Linked DNA regions of Homo sapiens. The protein of the gene in region 2 purifies or fractionates together with the protein of the main gene of each other region. This does not show direct contact. Each region holds a gene or a part of one and is shown on either strand. Other genes may lie near its edges.

Evidence for each region.
Region 1: the proteins of AIFM3 (region 2) and PGK2 purify together in Homo sapiens (affinity purification with mass spectrometry; 2 studies listed by BioGRID and IntAct, with this or other methods). This does not show direct contact.
Region 3: the proteins of AIFM3 (region 2) and NMT2 purify together in Homo sapiens (affinity purification with mass spectrometry; 2 studies listed by BioGRID and IntAct, with this or other methods). This does not show direct contact.

Annotation. Positions count from the first base shown.
Region 1 is NC_000006.12:49,785,155-49,792,151, forward strand, and holds PGK2 (phosphoglycerate kinase 2), read right to left. Parts: upstream 2,132-6,997; 5' UTR 2,034-2,131; coding exon 780-2,033; 3' UTR 506-779; downstream 1-505. UniProt on the Homo sapiens protein: Essential for sperm motility and male fertility. Not required for the completion of spermatogenesis.
Region 2 is NC_000022.11:20,963,333-20,970,320, forward strand, and holds the start of AIFM3 (apoptosis-inducing factor 3), read left to right. Parts: upstream 1-3,922; 5' UTR 3,923-3,971; intron 3,972-4,472; 5' UTR 4,473-4,612; coding exon 4,613-4,643; intron 4,644-6,988. UniProt on the Homo sapiens protein: Induces apoptosis through a caspase dependent pathway. Reduces mitochondrial membrane potential.
Region 3 is NC_000010.11:15,158,645-15,165,755, reverse strand, and holds part of NMT2 (glycylpeptide N-tetradecanoyltransferase 2), read left to right. Parts: intron 1-5,719; exon of another isoform or gene 5,720-5,923; intron 5,924-7,111.

The DNA.
Region 1 (6,997 bases), on a different chromosome or scaffold from region 2:
TCTATTTTCCCATTATTAAACCAGCTATGTATATATATTTTATTTATCTCAAAAACCAAGTTTTAGAACTTACCAGTTATATTATCTATTTATTAAATAATGCCTGCCTTAAAAATAAAACAATTACTTATTTACAACTTGGGTTTAACTTGTAGCTCTTTTTCTAGCTGGCATTTGTGTGTAATCTTGTGCATTGATATGCACACAAACATAATTCTTACCTTGAGTTTAATTTCTTTTCTTTTTAAAAATTCCTTGGGTTTAATAAGTGTCTTTCATTTCTCTTTTTTTTGGTCCTATTTAGTATAACATTTCCCCTTAGCAGAACTTTAATGGTACCCATGAGTTCTTTATATGTAATTATTTTTCTCAGTTTATTTGGGCATATTTATTGTTTGTTTGTCAACTTTCATTCCACCCTTTCCCAACAAATTAAGTTTTATCTTTTGGGTTTCAAATTATGAAACAATAGCAAAGTTGGACTAAAATAAAAAGATTCAGTTTCTTCAGCTCACTTTCTTTAATAGGCAACTTAAGAATATGTCCTCCCTAGATAGCACAATGGTGAAGTTCAAATGAGAACTTGAACAGGCAAATGCGTGACCAAACTAAAATGAATTGCTGTGCTGATATTAAGAGTTCCTGATGGCCTGCTGCTTGTCCATTACATAGGTCTTGATCTAGGAGTAGATTTTAACAAAAGTCACATCGAGATGTAAAAGCATTAAGCTGACTTAAGGGCCATGGACAGAAAACAGAAGGAAGTAACACTATATTAACTACATGTTGCTGAGGGCCTCTACTCCAGGAAGGATTTTACCTTCCAGAAGCTCTAGACTGGCACCGCCTCCAGTGCTGACATGGCTGACTTTATCTTCAGTGTTCCATTTGGCACAGCAAGTAGCAGTGTCTCCACCCCCTATAACAGTGATGCAGCCCTTGGAAGTGGCTTTCACAATTTCATCCATGAGGGCTTTGGTTCCCTTAGCAAAGGCATCCCATTCAAATACTCCTAACGGCCCATTCCAAACAATTAGCCTTGCTTGAGCCACAACTTGAGCATGATTCTTGTTGCTCTCAGGACCACAGTCCAAACCCATCCAGCCAGGAGATATGCCAGATGCTACAGTGGCTTTTCCAACCTGAGCGTTCTCGTCAAACTTGTCCCCAGTAACAAAATCAACAGGAAAAGTAATCCTTACACCATTCTTTTGTGCTTTGGCCATGATATCTTTAACGATCTTGGCTCCCTCTTCATCAAACAGGGAAGCACCAATCTCCATGTTGTTGAGTACCTTAAGGAAGGTATAAGCCATTCCACCACCAATAATCATCTCATTGACTTTGTCCAGCATATTTTTGATAAGTTGGATCTTGTCTGCCACTTTGGCTCCACCAAGTATAGCCAGAAAGGGTCTCACTGGGTTTTCCAAGGCTTTAGCAAAGTAATCTAGTTCCTTCTTCATCAAGAATCCGGATGCTTTATGGGGCAGATTCACTCCCACCATGGAACTATGAGCGCGGTGTGCAGTGCCAAAAGCATCATTGACATAGACGTCCCCTAGCTTGGAAAGTGATGCTCGGAAGGCTTCTATTTTATCTGGCTCAGCTTTAATCTTCTTTCCAGAGGGATCTTGGCCCTTCCCTTCTTCCTCCACATGAAAGCGCAGGTTCTCCAGCAGGATGACTGAACCAGGAGCTGGGTTGGCACAGGCTTTCTCCACTTCTGCGCCTACACAGTCCTTCAGGAACAGAACATCCTTGCCCAGCAAGGATTTGAGCTCAACAGCAACAGGTGCTAAGGAATATTTGTCAGGCATGGGAACACCATCAGGCCGACCTAGATGACTCATAAGAACTACTGCCTTGGCTCCATTGTCCAGGCAGTACTTGATGCTTGGGATGGAAGCCTTGATCCTCTGGTTGTTTGTAATCTGGTTCTTCTTCATGGGAACATTGAAGTCTACTCTCATGATGACTCGCTTCCCTCTAACATCCAGTTTGTCTAAAGTCAACTTCTTAGAAAGAGACATCTTGACAATATAAAGACATAGGCTGACACCTGGATCTTAATGCTGAAGAACCAACTTGCTGTTGAGGGGCTGGGTCGGTGGTGACTTCTAACGCCTTTGCCCTTGTCCCGCCCCTTTCTTCTCCTCACTGTCTCCAGCACAACGGCCACTGTTAGACTGGAAAGCAAATCTAGCTTTGTGATTGGCTCATGGTCCTGTCAATCTCGATCTGAACTGTGTTGCTAGGTGAAGATTCCAACTTCCTGGGCAGAGGGTCATGTAGTGGAATAGAGCTGTACCTGGCTTCAGGCGAGACTTGGGTAGGTGAAGAAACCCCAGAATAAGAATGGTTCTAAAAAAACAAGAATAGTCCTGAGGTGTGCGCCGCCTTCTGGCTCTTTTTGCCCCCACCCCACAGCTCGGTTAACAGTTGCTTTTATTATTAAAAACAAAACAAAAAGAACTCCACCCCCACCCCCGCAAACCTACATACACCTCATTCATGTCAAATCTTAACCATTTTGATATGTAAAAACCTCTGCAGTGCCAAATAAAAGGAATATTTGAAATAATGATTTTCATATGAAACCTTGCTTATTCAAGTCAGGATAGTATAGTTCTGTTTTTTCCTTGTCTTGATAAATATTTCTTTGAGGATGTGGCTTGTTGTTAGTCTTCATCTTTAGATCTATTCTGGGACGTGGTGGGAATGCTGTCATATTTTCATTACTTTGCTTCTTCCATTTTCAGACTACCATGAAAGAATGTTTGGTCACTTCTGCAGGAGAATCCCATAAGATCATAGCAAAGAGAGTATCAGTAACAAGTGCTGAAAGTAATGGTGACATTTCTTTCAGACTACAATGTTATGATGAGGCTCCTTATTTTTTGTCTCCTCTCTGTTTGCTTTCCTACCTGTACAACTTAGAAATTGAGCTGAAAAATAAATGCATGGTTTTCATGAAGATGAAAACATATATTAGAATTGAAAGTGAGTAAGATATTCTATTTTTGGAGAAAGCAAATGTATGTGGCTAGTTGGTTTAGTAATGAAAATTGGCTTTACAGTTTTTTTCATTCTACTCCATAAGTTGAGTGAACTAAATATGTAAAATGAAGGCTTTGACAGAAATATATTTGAGGCATCTCCTATTAAGATGGCTAAAATAAAAAATAAAAACAAGTGTTGAGAAAGAAGTGGACAAATTGGAATCCTCATTTATTGCTGATAGGAATGTCTAATGGTGCAGCCACTTTAAAAAACAGTTTATCGGTTCCTCAATGTTGAACATCGAGTCAACAGCATTTAAAAGCAAACTTAAATGGTGTTAAAATATATAGTAACAGAAACTCTCATTTGTTGCTCCCAGGAATGAAATATGCTACAGACATTTTGGGAAACAGCTTGGCAATTTCTTAGAAATATGCATAGACTTACCATACAAGTCATCAATCCTATTTCTAGATATTCATCCAAGGACATCAAAAACCTGTATTCTCTCAAACTTCTGTAAACAAACGTTTAGAGCAGTTTTATTAATAATTACCAAAATTGTATATTCTTCAAGTAATAAATAAATAAACTGTGATATATCCATGCAATGGAATATTATTTTTTAAAAAAAGAAAAGAAACAAGCTATTTACTTACACAAAAGCCCTGGATAAAACTTAAATGTGCCTTACTAACTGAAAGACGCCAGGCAAAAAAATTTTGTAGTTATTGTATAATTCCATTTGTATGACATTTGATAAAAGGCAAAACTATAGGGATGGAAAACATATCAGTGGTTGCTACAGGTTAAGAGAGCGTGGTCAACTATAATGGGGATACACAGGAGGATTTTTAGTGTGGTAAACTTTTCTATGAGGTACTGGAGTGGTGGATACAACATTCTATGCACTTGTCAAAATTCATAGAATCGTACGTTGTAGAGAGTAAACTTTAATGAATGCAAATAAAAAATATGATCCAGAGTGTTAGGGAATCGTATTATATAATGTAGCCTCTGACAGATAAGCCTAACTGTATCGTAATATATAGGAAATTTTACTACATGTGATGTGGAAATTTTACTACAGGTGATGTGGACAAAAAAAGGAAATGACTTAAGTAACTTTGCAAAAGAGGTTTTCAGTTTGTAAAACTAAAGACAAAAACAGCTGTCCATAAATATAATACTCTAGTTGGTAAGTTTGAATATCACAAGCTTATAGGTGAATAATTCTTAAACTATTTGTGTTATTAGAGATAAACAAATAATGGAAGATAATTAAAAGTTTCTCACCGTCAGGAAAATAAATTACAAATAAGCAAGGGCAGAATGAACTCTGTGGTGCTGGATTAAGAGTCTGAGATATCGGTATGAACTCATATTAAGTTCAATATACACATAGGTTGATATGGAAAATAATTACAGATATATGTGTATAAATATGTGTTAATTTTCTCTTGCTACTGAAGCAAGTTGTCACAAATTTAGCTACTTGAAATAACACAATTTTGTGTTCAAAAACAATTCTGTAGGTCAGAGATTCAGGTTGGCTCTGCTGGTTTCTTGCTCTGGATTTCATAAAGTTTTGATGGCTGGGTTTTCATTACAAGGCTCTAGGAAGAATTTACCTCTAAGCTCATTTAGGCTTTTGGCAGGATTCAGTTCCTTGCAATTATAGGACTGAGCTACCTGCTTTTGGCTGGCTGTTAATAAACCCCTAAAGGCCCTCTCAGGTTTGTAGGTTCCTGTATCTGAGAGCCAGCAATGATGCATTGAATTCTTCTTACAATTGGAATCTCTCTGATTTTCATTTCTACTCCATCTGTTTTCCACTTTCATCCAGAGAAAATTCTCTGCTGTTAAGGACTCATTTGATTAAGTTGGGCCAAACTAGATAATACAGGATAAACTCCCTAATTAAATACTGTGATATAATTATATCTGCAAAGTCTCTTTTGTCATGTAGCATCAGTATTTACAAGTTCTGGGGAATAGGACATGGACATCTTTGGTGGGCCGTTATTCTGCCTACTCAAACAGGATTTTGATAAACGCAAATATTTTCAAGCTCTGTTCGTAAGAGGGCAGAGAAGCAGTGACTTATAAATAAATAAGTGGGGGTGGGGGAAAGGACAAAACTTCTCTACAGAGGAATTCCAAATAATGTATGTAGACACATTCCTCTACTAGAGGTGGAGCTTAATGGACTGTTTGAATGTAGTGATAAATAGATTCTGAGTATTCAAATTACTATTCACCATGATTTACAAATACTAGATTTGAAAGACCCAAAAGGAAAATATACTCTTCTGTTTTGGCACCTTTCTGTAAAGAAGATTTGCAGTGTGCTCTGCACTGAGCTAAACCACAAGGGCATTTTGTCACCACTTCCCCAAGATCTGTCTTCATGTAACAGCATCAAGCTCTGAGGACCTTGTCTTTCAAAATTAAAATCCTGTTACCACGTATCATCCCACATAGAGGCTGAAATGTCTTCTTGACTAAATCCAGTTTTCATCTATGTTCACAGTATCAATGTCTCTACGTTCTCCTGTTCTTGGACAGGTTTTCCAGGTTTTCTTTATGCAAATGTCCTCTGTTTCTCTCCAGGTCTTTTAAGGGCTGCTTACTTAGCTACTAGTATTTGCTCATGGTGGTGACTGATTAAAGTCTATGATGGAAAGATTTCATTATAGGTTATCCATTTTCTTTGAAAATTGAAACATGTTATGGATATAATCTATTATTCTTTCTATTAGGAAGCCTGTGAAATATTTGGGGCAGTTTACCTTCAATTCACCTTTCCATTGACAATGATTGTAAAATATGCAAATATATATTCCATACGTTATGCAGAGTTCTGGGTGCTGAAATGACTAATAATCTATAGGTATGTATATTCTCATGTACATATTGTGTCATTTTAGTCACTAATTTTTAATATTTCGAAACACACCAATCCTTCTTTTAACAATTTAAAAACAATTTTTAAATTGTTTATGAATTTGTAAATGTCCCTATTAATAATAGCAGCAAACTTCAATTTATGCATTTGAAAATGTTTCCATGAGTTTTTGGGATCATTGTAAAAGGTAGACTAAGGTGGCTGTATGGTGCTATCTCTCCCTTTCAATGGCGAAAACCGCTACTCTTGCGTCAACCTAATATATAACTTTTTACACAGTGCAGAATTAGTTTGAAAACAACATAATAATTCACACGATAACATTATGTATGAATTAGCCAATGCATTTCTTTTAAAGTATACTTTTTTGCATTTGTTCCTCCATCTACTTATCTATTCTTCTTTTTTTTCTTTATTATTATTATTATTATTATTATACTTTAAGTTTTAGGGTACATGTGCACAATGTGCAGGTTAGTTACATATGTATACATATGCTATGCTGGTGCACTGCACCCACTAACTCGTCATCTAGCATTAGGTATATCTCCCAATGCTATCCCTCCCCCCTGCCCCCACCCCACAACAGTCTCCAGAGTGTGATGTTCCCCTTCCTGTGTTCATGTGTTCTCATTGTTCAATTCCCACCTATGAGTGAGAATATGCGGTATTTGGTTTTTTGTTCTTGTGATAGTTTACTGAGAATGATGATTTCCAATTTCATCCATGTCCCTACAAAGGACATGAACTCATCATTTTTTATGGCTGCATAGTATTCATGGTGTATATGTGCCACATTATCTTAATCCAGTCTATCATTGTTGGACATTTGGGTTGGTTCCAAGTCTTTGCTATTGTGAATAATGCCGCAATAAACATATGTGTGCATGTGTCTTTATAGCAGCATGATTTATAGTCCTTTGGGTATATACCCAGTAATGGGATGGCTGGGTCAAATGGTATTTCTAGTTCTGGATCCCTGAGGAATCGCCACACTGACTTCCACAATGGTTGAACTAGCTTACAGTCCCACCAACAGTGTAAAAGTGTTCCTATTTCTCCACATCCTCTCCAGCACCTGTTGTT
Region 2 (6,988 bases):
AGGAACCTCAAGCACAGTGCCTGCGGCAAAGGGAGCCACAATGGACTTGCCCCAGGTCAGGCCTGCACTTGCCTTGTGTCAGGGTATCTCCCCAAGTTGCTGGCCTCAGTCCCTACACTGACCTGTTTCCCCAGCTTTATCTCTGGCACCCCAAACTCAGCAGCCCCGACCCCACTTCCCAAGCACCCCCTGTGCCTGGCTCTGTGCCTGTCATGGTGTCCTGGCAGCAGTCTGGGAGAGTATTTCAGTTACCTGCGGTGTCCTGGGAAGGCTGGAGCAGAGGGGTCCACTCACTGATTGCCAAGGTCACAGAACAGGACTTGCATTGTGCACTGGAGGCCCTGTGGTCTTGCATGAGCCTGGTAGGCCTCTCCCCTCCTGCTTCCAGCCCTCCATCTGGGAGGCCAGCCTGCCCAGGGCTGCTCTGCCACTTAGCAGCTGTGTGGCCCTGGAGAGTCCCTAACCTCACTGAACCTCAGTTTCTCCGTTTGTGAAATGGAGATAATACAAAGAGAACTTTCCTTCTCAGGCTGTTGTGATGGGTAAGGAAATAAATGCATGCAAAATCACAGCTGTAGTTACTATGAGGCACACTGTCTTCCTGGCTAGAGGAGATTCTGAAGGTGGGTGGGGCAGCAAGATCACCACGTGTATGAAATGGGGGCAGGCTGGTTGGAGACTGAGGGCACCAGCCCCAAGCACTGCCATCTGCCCTGTGATGGGACTCTCCTGTGGCAGTGGCAACGGTCCCACTGTGGAAGCAACACATGAGCTGAGAGGACTTGCCTGAACTGAGCCACATGTGCCCTCTGGGCCTGGTCACCCCACCACCTGCCCCCAGTGTGACCCATGCAGGGCCTGTTCCTGACCCTGAACGAGACCAGGACTCCCTGGGCTGCATTTCCTATCTGTAAAATTGTAGGAGGGTGGTGGTGGTGGGGGCTCGAACTTGCCCCCTGGGTGGGGTGGGGCATAAATAGTCCCAGAGGATGGCCTGGGAAGGCTGGCTGGGCCTGGCACAGGGGACTTTACTGCTGTCATTATTGTCCTCCTTACAGGAGAGGAGAGCAAGGCCCAGACCGGGGAGGAACCCACACAGCCTCTGTGCTCCAGCCTGCTTGAAAGACAAGGTCTACCTACAACGCAGAGATGCACACATTAAGGACAATGAAACACCCAAGTGTTAGGAACCAGAATAATCAGCCCTAATAGAGGGGAGGCTGATCAGGGAGGGCCTCCTGGAGGAGGAGGCACAACATCAGGGTGCACTGTGATTTCTGGAGACCCAAGGAGTTCTGGTAAATGACAGGTGAGAAAAAGAAAATGTAATAAAATATAATTGAAAACAGACCCTGGTATGTGTGGAGAGAGGGCCGGGAGGAACCTAGGACACCGGGGAACCTGAACTCCCCCAACCAGTGAAGGGAGCTGTGGGCAGCAAGGTTTGATTGGGGTTTTCTTTCTTGTGGAGGTTTCTCAGAGTGATTCAAGTTCCCCCACCCCGCCCACAGATGGTTCTGAGACTTTGGAAAGAAAGAAAAGGAAAAAAGACCCTGCCCGCGCCCCAGCTGGGCATCCCTGGGAGGTCGCGAGGATCCCCGGAGACCCAGACTCGGGCCCGGGGCGCCCCCGGCCAGAGCGGCCCCTGGCTGCCTCCCTACGCCCCGCGACTCCGGTCCGGACGCCGAGGGCCTCGGCCTGCCCCTGTCCCCCGGCCGCCCCCCACCTGCTCCGGCCCGGCGGGGCGGTGCTGGGCCCGCGGGCTCCCCGGCCGCAGTGCAAACGCAGCGCCAGACACGCCCCGCCCGCGCCTCCCCGCCCCCCCGCGCCCGCGGCCCCAAGCGGTTCCCGAGCCCAGGCCCGCGCCGAGCCCAGGTGAGCGCCCGCCCCGGGGACCCTGGTCCCCGGAACCCCGGTCCCCGCCCGCCGCCCCGCCTCTTCGCCCCGGCGCCGGGGGCCAGCGCTTGCGCTCCCAAGTCTCGGACCCCGGCCCGGCACGTTAGGGGCTGGGGGTTGGCAAGCGGGGCCAGAGGCACTGGCCGGGGTCCGAAGCTCACCTCGTCCTTCTCTCGTCCCACAACGGCCCCTTCCCGGCTCGCCGCGGGGCCCCACTGTGTGCCAGTCCCCCTTCTCGGGCTGCAAGGTCTGGCGGGGGCAACGGGACGGAGCCGGCGAGGCTGCTGGCATCGGCTTCCCAGAGAGAGGGAACTGCACGTGCAGAGGCGGGGAGAGTGGACAGAGGCTTGCCCTGAGCTCCGTGGGGGAGGGGAGAGCGCGGAGCCCCCACACTCGAAGGCAGGACTGGGATCAGATGCCACCCCTAGGACGCCTGGAAGCCACTGGGAGTCCGATCTGGGCAGGAGCCCTTGGGATGAGGCAGTGGGGGCAGGTGGCGAGAGGTGGAGGAGTGGGGAGAGGACCCTGCCCAGCCTGCACCCTGGGGGCGCCAGGAGCCCTGGGAGGGTCAGGTGGAGCAGGGGCCGCTCTGTGAGATGGGAGTAATCCAGTCCCGCCTCACAGGTCCTGGGGTCCCTGGGACAGACACAGACTCCTGCTGGGTGGTTAGCACTGGGCTCTGCTAGAACTTTTCTGCAGTGGGCAGCTCATGGGCAAGGAATAGCACTCGGGCGCTCTGCACTCTGGGGGTCCCTCCTGCCCTGCCCCTGGCAAGGACCTTTGCCTTTGAGTGGGGTGACTGGGCTCCAAGCCGATCTAGCACACAGTAGGCCGAAGGCACAGGGGCCCCACCCAGTCTCCTTCCTGGCCCAGGCCCTGGGGGATTCAGGTCCCTGGGTACTCGGGAAGGGACAGCACAGCCTGGGCAGGTCCCCAGTGGCAAGACCAGGTCTGACCTTTTCTGGGATCTGTGGCCCATCAGGTGAGGCCTGAGGTCAGCCAGGAAGGAAGCGGGCAGGGCTGAACCAGGGCTGAAACCAGGACCCAGGAAGGGACAGCCTAGTGCCCAGGGAAGGGGCAGGTGGGGCAGGTGGCAGTTGAGTTTTACAGACCTTCTTTGATGACAAGTGGGGGAAAGAGCCAAGGCACGCCCCAGTGGCTGTGGGAGCCACCGCCTCCTCCCCTGTAATGGGCACCTCGAGGACCGACAGGCGCAGGGGCCAGGCACCAAGGGTCCCTCTCCAACCTGGCCTTTTGTTTCCACCCCTTGCTCTCAGGCACCCACCCACGGCCCTTCCTGGTATCTGGACCAGACCAGGTGGGTCTCAGCCCCACCTCAAGTGAGACTTCAGGAAGAACTTCCAGAGGAAACTGGAGGATGGCAGTGGGATGGACTGTGGGGAGGTCATTTGCAAACAAGGCAGCTTATGCCTGTGCCCTGGGCCTTCCAAAGTCCACCTGTAGGCTGCATCTTCCGGAAGGCCCACCCTGTAGCCTGGAAGGCACCTGGCTACAGTGATCTCTCTGCTGTGCAGGTGTCCCCTCCCCCAGGGCACCTTGCAGGGCCTTAGGGTGATATGGGGGCTTTCTGGGCCCCTGCCCACCTTAAAACTGATCAAGGTGGGAGGGTGGGGTGGGAGGCCACAGGGATGCCCCTGCTGCTTGACCTTGATGGGACCTTGACCCCTTGCTTTCCCCATATGCTGTTGGGCATGACTGCCCACAGGCCTGGTGGGCGTTTGTGAAGGGCTGGAGTCGGGGGTAGGGGGAGCTTATGGCTGCTGGGCACAGGCGTGGCAGGGCTGTGTGCCTGGCTTCCCTTTCCCCTAACCCCATCAGGCCCGGGCTGGCCGCCCACTTCTGTTCACCACAGAGCAGGGTTTCCCTGGGGACCAGTGGACTGGCCCAGCCCCACACCGCCCCCCAGCCCCTCCTGGCCACAGCTTGAGCTGGGAGGAGGGTGGAGGCTGGGCCGCCTCCTGGACCCCTGCCCTCCCTGCCCGGCCTTCCAAGGCCCGGCAGCCTCAGTCCACTGCTGGGCCTGGAACACGGAGCAGTGGCTGCCCTGCGAGGAGGTGGGTGTCCGGAGTGCTAGCCAGGGTGGGGCTGGGCTAGGGGGAGCCTGATGTCACCCCCATTGTAGGAGGGAGAAGACCAAGGATGAGAAGGGCTTTGGCTTCCCCAAGGTGACCCCCTCTTTGAGCCTAGGCATAGTGGTCTCCCGGGAGAATGGAGGGTCCCAGAGCTCTCAGGCTGTGGGATTTGGAGAGGGGAAGGGGGGCACGAGGAGGCAGTAGAAATCAGGGAGGATTTCCTGGGCAAGGCAGCCGCGGGGCTGGACGATGGGCGGCCGAGGTTCGGGCAGAGGAACTCCACTGGAGGAGTGAGGGAGCTGAGCTTGGAGGGCTTCAAAGGGGAGGTGACCTCCAGGGCCCCACGCTCTGGGATCAGGCTCACGCCATGGTTCCCAGCTCAAATGTAAGACTCTTTCCGAAGCTCCCACTGTCTCTCTCCGTCCCTCTGTGTCTCTACCTGCCCACACGCCCCGGTCCTGATGGCTCCAGTCTCCCCTGCAGGTCCTAGAGCAGCTCCAGCAGGATGGCGGCTCCAGCGTCTCTAAGGCCTGCAGGGGGTCCAGCCCCATGGGGGGCGCCCTAGGCCTCCGACAGCTCCCCATCTGTGCTCCTGCCTGCCGGCCATCCTCAGGCCACTCGCCATGGGCGGCTGCTTCTCCAAACCCAAACCAGGTACCTCCTGTCTTCTTGTCTCCATCCTTTCTCCTCCCTCCCCGCCTCCTCCTCCCCCGTCTCCCCCCCCTCCCCCTCTGCACTCGGTAGGCCTCCGAAGTAGGTCAGGCTATCCAAGAACCCGCTCGGAATGTTAATACGCTGCCGCCAGGAGGGGGTAGGGGGCCTGGAGCAGTTCCCCCAGCTGGCCCCTGCTCCAGTGGGTGCCCCTTTTTCTTTGGGGCTTTGAGTGTTGGTGGTGGGAATAACAGCAGGACCCTTCTTGGAAAAGGAAAGTCAGGGTTCCTCCTGTTGCAGGGTTGGGGAAGGGGCTATGCCCCCAGGGCCAGGGAAGGGGGGAGCTGGGGACACGCTCAGCCACTCTGTGACCTAGGGCATGCAAGTTACCCCTCTGAGCCTCTGTTTTTCTCTCTGCAAAAGAGAGGGCCTGGCCACCCTGACCTCTTAGAGTTGCTGTGAGGGTGTAGTGGGCAGATCCTGGCTCTCTTTGCCTCCTCTGATCCCCTGTGTGGTCTCGGGCTGCCTTCTTGGCCTTTCTGGGCACACTTCCCCATTTATACAGGAAATCACCATCCAACCTAGCCTGAGCTACTCCAGCCAGAAGTGGGAGTGTCCTGGGGTGCTAGGGGAGGCCTGGGTCTTTTCTCCACTAAAGACTCATGTCTGCGGAGCTCTCCCTCTGGCCCCCCACTTTCCCTCTTCTCTCCTCACAACACCTGGGGAGGCAGGAGTGTGCAGCTTTGTCACAGGTGGAGAAACTGAGGCTTAGAGAGACCTCAAGAGCGCAGCCAGTGCTCCACTCAACCTGCCAGGCCACGCTGCCCCAGCCAGCTCACCCCAGCCAGCTCACCCCAGCCAGCTCACCCCAGCTCCCCTTACCTGATACCCATCAGCTCCGTTACCTTGGAACTTGTGAGGCTTTTCTCCCTTTCCTGGGTCTAAGGGAGAACTTGGGCGAGGGAGGAGGGCTGTGATGACCCACCAGGCAGAGGGACCCACTTGCCTCTGCTCCAAGAAGCCACTCTTCCTCCCCCGCTCCTGTGCTGTGGACACCTAGGCCTGGGCTGGATCCCTCTCTGCCTCAAAATGTGCCTTGGGCAGATGACGTCCATTGTCTCCCCCTAGCAGTGGGTGGGATGATGCCAGCTGGCCTCATACCAGGCGTCTGTGGCACCGCTGGGCTGGCAGGAGGCCCTGGCAGAAGATGCCACCTGCAGGTTCTTTTAAAGGACCCCAAATGGCTGGCCTGCCTGGGACCCGTGGCCCCAGGACTTCCAGTGTCGGGGGTGGCCACCCTCACCAAAGGCAGTCCTAAGAACTTAGGCAAATCCAGCCCTGCCCCTTTCTGGCTGTGTGGCCTTGGGCAGGTGATTTCCCCTCTCTGAGCCTCTGCATCCTCATTGTAAAGTGGGGCTGTTGTGCCTAGCATGAGGGCCTGGCACACCAGAAGCACTTGCGGAATTTTTTTTTTTTGAGACAGAGTTCACTCCTTCTCCCATGCTGGAGTGCAGTGGCGTGATCTCGGCTCACTGCAAGCTCCGCCTCCCAGGTTCATGCCATTCTCCTGCCTCAGCCTCCCAAGTAGCTGGAACTACAGGCGCCCGCCACCACGCCCAGCTATTTTTTTGTATTTTTAGTAGAGACGGGGTTTCACCGTGTTAGCCAGGATGGTCTCTATCTCCTGACCTTGTGATCCGCCCATCTCGGCCTCCCAAGGAATATTATTTGTTATCCCTTTTCTGAGCTGGGCTCTGTGCTGCCAGGCCTCCCCTGTGGGGCTGTAGCCAGAGGCTCAGGCCCCAGGTGCCCATGCTGGGCAGGTCAGGCATGAGGCTCAGGGAATTTCCAGATATGGGAGTGACAGCATTTGGGGCCTGAGGGTTCAGCTGGGGTCTTAAGGGGCCACAAAGAGACTAGATCAAGCAGAAGACCTCTGTGCAAATCCTTCACTTTCTATCTTGCTCCACTCGATTCTGTGGCTCCGTGTGCATCAGCACCTGCTTCCTGGGTTCCCTCTGTGCTCCTGTGTGTCCTGTCTGAGTAGTTGATAAGAAGGTATCAGACCAGTCCCTCACCTAGCTCAGAGCTAGGAGGAAGTGCAGCTCTCTTAGCATCTGTTCACCTGCCTTTTATTAGGCCATAACTGATACCTAAAGGCTTTCCATCCTCACCATGGCTGCTAGGAGGCTCAGAGCTAACTGGTAAAACACTGCTGCCCAACTCCATCTATTGAGCTTCTACTCTGGGTTACATACAGTATTTCCTTCAGCATTCACTGTCACCAACGAGGTAGGCATTTGCTGTTCTCTCTGTTTTATTTTCATTTTTTGAGATGGGGTCTCATT
Region 3 (7,111 bases), on a different chromosome or scaffold from region 2:
CAGGCGCGTGGCACCACACCCAGCTAATTTTTGTATTTTTAGTAGAGATGGGGTTTCACCATGTTTGCCAGGCTGGTCTCGAACTTCTGACCTTAGGTGATATGCTTGCCTCGGCCTCCCAAAGTGCTGGGATTACAGGTGTAAGCCAGTGTAAAGAGTTAAATGTACTCTTTAACTTTTTGGTCCACCCAAGCGTGGAAGTGGCAAACCACTATAAAACTTTCATGAATTACAAAAAACATGGGGGAAGAAGGGATTGTCAGTTTTAATTAGTGAGACTATATTCAGACAAGTATAATTTTATTATTTTCAAACAATGTTTGGCAATTAGAACCAGGCTAATAGAGGATTGCCTAAAGACATCTTTATATAACTTACTTTAACACACGATTTGCAATTAGAATTAGGGAGTAGGTCTTTATAAAGAGCTTGAAGGAGCCTGGAAAGACTTTCTACATAGATAAAAATTAACCTCAGTCCAGCTTCCTATATGAATTATTAGAAATAGTCCAGATTACTGAAGATTTCTGTTCTGCTATGGGTGGCAGTGGTACAAAAAGGTGACCTGGAGGATGATTTTTTTTTTTTTTTTGAGATGGAGTTTTGCTCTTGTCACCCAGGCTGGAGTGCAATAGTACGATCTTGGCGCACTGCAACCTCCACCTCCCGGGTTCAAGCAATTCTCCTGCCTCAGCCTCCCAAGTAGCTGGGATTACAGGCGTGCATCACCACGCCCAGCTAATTTTGTATTTTTAATAGAGACAGGATTTTACCGTGTTGGTTAGGCTGGTCTCAAACTCCTGACCTGAGGTGATCCCCACCTCTGCATCCCAAAGTGCTGGGATTACAGGCGTGTGCCACCATACCTGGCTAATTTTGTATTTTTAGTAGAGATGGGGTTTTACCATGTTGGTCAGGCTGGTCTTGAACTCCTGACCTCAGGTGATCCCCTGGCCTCGGCCTCCCAAAGTGCTGGGATTACAGGCCATGGTGCCCGGCCTGGAGGATGAATTTCCTAGGAGCTTTCACCGTTGGATCTGAGGTTAAGATGCTCAAGGATCTTTAATACTTCCCTCATTTTGCTGTGTTTTTGCCTTCTGTTACTTTCTTCTGAAGGGCTTTGGGGACATTGAGGACAGGCCAAATTGTTGAAGAATTATTTAGAACCCACTGTCTTCTCGCTGTCCTTTTGATGTCCGGCTTCTCCAGTTATGAAATACATTTGGTATTGGTCATGATCTCTTACTGAGCTAATGTTATGGTCCATTGTTGGAGACAGAGTCAAATAAAATTCGTGTTGAACTTTGGTAACAAAACCAAATCTGTCCCCTTGCTTAACCAACATTGACTTACAGAGAGCATATACTTCCTAGAAAAATAGATGTTTCTCATAGCTTTCCGTTAAGAGAGCTTTTCCCTCAATATTCACTGGAAGCAGCTACTAAGAAGATTTATATAGGAACCAAAATAAACATAGGTGAGTATGTTTTTGTTGGCAGATACATGACTAAATTAGTCCCTGGGGTAGACATGAAATAGGGTTAAGACCTTTTTTTTTTTTTTTTTTTTTTTTGAGACCAATTCTCGCTCTGTCCCCCAGGCTGAAGTGCAGTGGCGCGATCTCGGCTCACTGCAAGCTCTGCCTCCCAGGTTCACGCCATTCTCTTGCCTCAGCTTCCGGAGTAGCTGGGACTACAGTAGGCGCCCGCCACCACGCCTGGCTAATTTTTTTGTATTTTTAGTAGAGACGGGGTTTCACCATGTTAGCCAGGATGGTCTCCATCTCCTGACCTTGTGATCCGCCCGCCTCGGCCTCCCAAAGTGCTGGGATTACAGGCGTGAGCCACCGTCCCCGGCCTAAGACGTTTTTAAGAGTTCTTTTTCTTAGAAAGATTGAAGATCTGGTATTGGACAAAGATGAAAACTTTGGAATTCTTTTAACAAAGAACATAATCTGTCTTCTACCATCCCCAATTTAGGGGGTAAAAAAAGGAAGTTCTTCTTTGGGCACTATGTTGTTGTATCTGACTTCATATGTCTGTTGTTGAAATTGAGTTGGGAACTTCCCCTTTGTCAGCTGTGTGGTATCAGTGGGAAAATGCAGAAACATTATGACTTGCAATAAGTTTTTCTTATGGAAAATTTAGGGATAACTCAAAGCTGCCCTTTCTGAAATTTGATCTGTTATCAACTGTATAAATCTAAATGGAAAAATAGATTAACGACAGTCTTTGCCTGAGGGACCTCCTCAAATCAAGAACTACTGTTTGAAATGATCAAGTGTCTGCTAAGACTTGCATCTGAATGGGTGATGTCACCCTTTGGCCCAGAACAAATTTTTTCCAGGGTTGTCTAAATATAGGACACATACTTTGCCATCTTTGTTTGTTAGTGCAAATGTACGTTATACATCTATACTAGTTAAAATCACTTTATTTTAACAGAACCAAGTTCTACTCCAAGTTCAAGAAATTGATTGTTGTTTTCTTTGAAAACATGTTAATGACGTTTTAAAAATACGCTTATTCAAAAATCAAACAATAGGGCCAGGTGTGGTGGCTCATGCCTGTCATCCCAGTGCTTTGGGAAGCCAAGGTGGAGGATCGCTTGAGGCCAAGAATTCAAGATCAACCTGGGGAACATAGCAAGACCCTATCTCGATGAAATAAAAAATGAGCTAGACATGGTGGTGCATGCGTATAGTTCCAGCTACTTGGGAGGCTGAGATGGGAGAATTGCTTCAGCCCAGAGAGCTGTGATCGCACTACTGTACTCCAGCCTGGGCAACAGAATGAGACTCTGTCTAAAAATATACATATATATATATCTCTCTCTTATATGTATATATTTATATATATCACATATATAAATATCAAAAGATATCAAATATATAGATATATAAATATCAAATATATAGAGATATATAAATATCAAATACAGATATATAATATCAAATACATAGAGATATATAAATCAAATATATATATAAATAAAATATATATATATATCAAACAATAAGGTATATAAGGTAGAGTGAAAGCCCCTGGTCACCTTATTTCCCAGAGCTGTCACCACTGATAGTTTAATGAACTCACTTTTTAATATGTGTGTGTGTTTAACATCGCTGGGATCTTACTGTACCTGGGTGCATTTGTTACCATGTATGTTTCGCTGACTCTTATTGTTGTGTGCTGGAACTTTCTGGGGTGATAGTAATCCAGTTGGGCAGTCATCAACACATGGAGCACTTGCATGTGACAAGTGTGACTGAGCTGAATGTTTTTATTTTATTTGAATTAATTTAAATTTAAATAGCTCCATGTGACTAGTGGCTATCATACTGGACAGCTCAGATCATATTCAGTCTTTGAATTTTGTTTATAAGCTTTCTTGGTACTCAAAAATTTCTGTATTTTATTTCCTGTCTTTGGTAGAATATGTCTAGTTTTCATTCTTTTTTTCTTCTGTGGATTATCTGTACACTTTTTTTTTTTTTTTTTTTTTGAGACAAGGTCTCACTCTGTCATCTGGGCTGGAGTGCAGTGGCACAATCTCAGCTCACTACAGCCTTGACCTCCTGGACTCAAGTGATCCTCCCACCTCAGCCTCTCAAGTAGCTAGGACTACAGGCACATGCCACCACACCTGGCTAATTTTTGTATTTTTGTAGAGACAGGGTCTCACTATGTTGTCTAGGCTGGTCTCGAACTCCTGAACTCAAGCAGTTCACCCACCTCCGTCTCCCAAAGTGTTGGGACTACAGGCGTGAGCCACCGTGCCCGGCGATCTGTACATTTTGAACAAGTATGTTTTCATCTATATTTCTTTATCCATATCAAAAAATTAACCACTATTTAAAATATTCTACCATCTCACAAGAAAAATCATGTAGGATATTTTGACTTCTTTTCATTTCCTAGGTTTAATTGAAATAACCTGGAATTGTAATTCTTTTATTTTTGCCCTTGTGTCACTAGAGACTTTTTTCTTAACTATTACATGTTTCACATTCCTGTTAACAAAAACATTTTAGACTTTCCTGACAGCTTTATTGTTTTTATGGGTTTCCATCGTTCTTTATAAAACACATCCTCCCGGCCAGGCGTGGTGGCTCGCACCTGTAATCCCAGCACTTTGGGAGGCCGGGGTGGGCGGATCACCTGAGGTCAGGAGTTCGAGACCAGCCTGGACAACATGGTGAAACCCCATCTCTACTAAAAATACAAAAAAACATTAGCCAGGTGTGGTGGCGGGCGTATGTAATCTCAGCTACTCGGGAGGCTGAGGCAGGCAGGAGAATCACTTGAACCCAGGAGGTGGAGGTTGCAGTGAGTCGAGATTGCACCATTGCACTCCAGCCTGGGCGACAGAGCAAGACTCTGTCTCAAAAAAATAAAAGTAAAAAATAAAACACATCCTGTCTTTTTCTTCTTTAACAGCATTCTCACATGATTTTTTTTCTTAGAGTGCGTGGATGATGTATTTTGAGTTCTTGCATGTCTGAAAATGCCATTCTTTTCCCCTCCCACATAATACATAGCCTGGGTGTGCATGTGACTCTATGATAACAATCGTTTTCCTTGAAACTCCATAAACGTTTTAATATCTTCCAGTATTTACTGGTACAGATGTTGTTTTCTTTGTGTTTTTTTTTTTTTTTTTTTTTTTTTTTTTGATTTTTGAGGCAGAGTCTCGCTCTGTCACCCAGGCCAGGCTGGTCTCGAACTCCTGACCTTGACCTCAGGTGATCCACCTGACTCGGTTCCCCAAAGTGCTGGGACTACAGGTGTGAGCCACTGTGCCTGGCCAGATGCTGTTTTCTCTGCTTCTCTGTCTTTTATAGGTAATCTTATTCTTTTTGTCTGTTTTAACTTGTTTTCAGTCTAGAAGCTTCTGGCATTTTTTCCCTGTTGTTCTATTACCAAAGGGTTTCCATGTCCTTTCACATGCTGGGATCGCCTGTCCTTTATTTTTTATTTTTTGCAATGGAGTCTTACTCTGTTGCCCAGGCTGGAGTGCAGTGTCGTCATCTTTGCTCACTGCAACGTCCACCTCCCAGGTTCAAGCGATTCTCCTGCCTCAGCCTCCCAAGTAGGCAGGATTATAGACGCACACTACCATGCCTAGCTAATTTTTGTATTTTTAGTAGAGACGGGGTTTCACCACGTTGGCCGGCTGGTCTCGAACTCCTGACCTCAAGGAATCTCCCCACCTCAGCCTCCCAAAGTGCTGGGATTACAGGTGTGAGCCACTGCACCTGGCACCTTTCCTTTACTATCTAAACAAAATGGCCTGAGCTGATACATGTTCATGGGGGTTTCTTGGGGTCTTAAGTTTTCATGGTCCTCAGGCACACCCACACTGCAGCCAACTTGCCCCATCACCGGGCTCCTTGTGCCTGTGTGTCCTTAGGGTGCTCTTTTTCTTCAACATTTGACCTTGGGTGGAACACGGTTATCTTCAGTTCTGTGTCTCTCACCACCCTCCTCCCAGGAATCACTAAAATCCAGCTATTGTGCACAGCATTTGCTGAAGCGTTTGTGGCTAATGGGGAGGGAGGGAGGTCTGATTACAGAGTAGCGCAGAAAACAACTTTGAATTCAGTGTCAGACATCATTGTTCACCAAGAGGAATTTGTTACTGCTCACGCCTTTCTGTGGGTCATGGCTTCCTCTGCTTCTGAGAGTGTCTCCTGATCTTTCTTCTCCTCTTCTCTAAGTTCAAGGTCAGCCCAAATGTCCTTTCTTTCATGAAGCCTTCCGCAGCCACTATGACCAAAGGCGCTGACCCCTGCCGGAAGCCCTGTAGCTCTTAGTGAGTGTATCTTTCCCGTGACATCTTTCCCAGTTGCTCTCACCTCATCTCCCCAGCCCTCTGCTCGGGAAGACCCTCATTCTCCTGCCCCAAGCTGTGGCTCCTAGAGGTGAGTTCCTTGTCCACAATCACAAATGGGAGATGTGGGTCTTTGCGTCTGTTGCTTAATGTGTGTGTAGCATCTACCAACCAGCTAGAGTAAAAGGTTTTATTTTGCTGGGCGCAGTGGCTCACGCCTGTAATCCCAGCACTTTGGGAGGCCGAGGCGGGTGGATCACCTGAGGTCAGTAGTTCGAGAGCAGCCTGGGCTACATGGTGAAACCCCATCTCTACTGAAAATACAAAAATCAGTCTGGCACGATGGCGGGCACCTGTAATCCCAGCTAATCGGGAGGCTGAGGCAGAATTGCTTGAACCCGAGAGATGGAGATCACTTTATAAGCACATACTGCAGTGAGCCGAGATTGTGCCACTGTACTCCAGTGAGCCTGGGCGACAGTGAGACTCTGTCTCAATAAATAAATAAATAAATAAATAAATAAATATTTTAAGGAGGTTTTATTTAAATATACAATAGGTTATCTGAAAATAAAGTATGGCTGGACTTTATTAGAATTAAACATTATAGAAAGTCAAGTACCCAAGGTCCATCTGTCTTTCTAACCTCTCTCCCTTTCTGTCTCAGTCTCTGTCAACTAGACTGCCCCAAGCATCTGTTCCTTAGTTCAGATTCTCCAGAAAGGATCTCACTGGTTTCTGGCCAAGAAAGGGATTATCCAGGCATGATCCAGTCCACTGTGATGGAGAAGGGAAAGGGAGGGGTAGAAGAGAATTGTGTGGTACAACATGGCCACTGAGGGCCACACCTTTGGTGAGACCTGTGGGCAAAGGGAGTTTTCAGGGAAGGACATAGTGAACAATGCTGGCACCTTGCTGGGACTGAATTGTATCTCCCTGCCAATTCATATGTTGAAGCCTAAATCCCCAACGTGATGGTGTCTGGAGGTGGCACCTTTGGGGGGTAAATAGCTTACAAGGGTGGAGTCCCCATGAATCGGATCAGTGTATGCTTATAAAGAGATAGAGTCCAGTGCTTTGTTGCTCTGCCAAGAATAAGGCCCTCACCAAAAACCTGACCCTGCTGGCACCCTGATCTTGGTGGACTTCCAGCCTCCAGAACTGTAAGAAATAAATGTCTTTTCTTTAAGTAATCAGTCTATCGTATTCTGTAATAGCAGGCTGAACTAAGACACACCTCAAAACATGTTTGCAGAACACAGCGTGTCTGCCTGTCTAC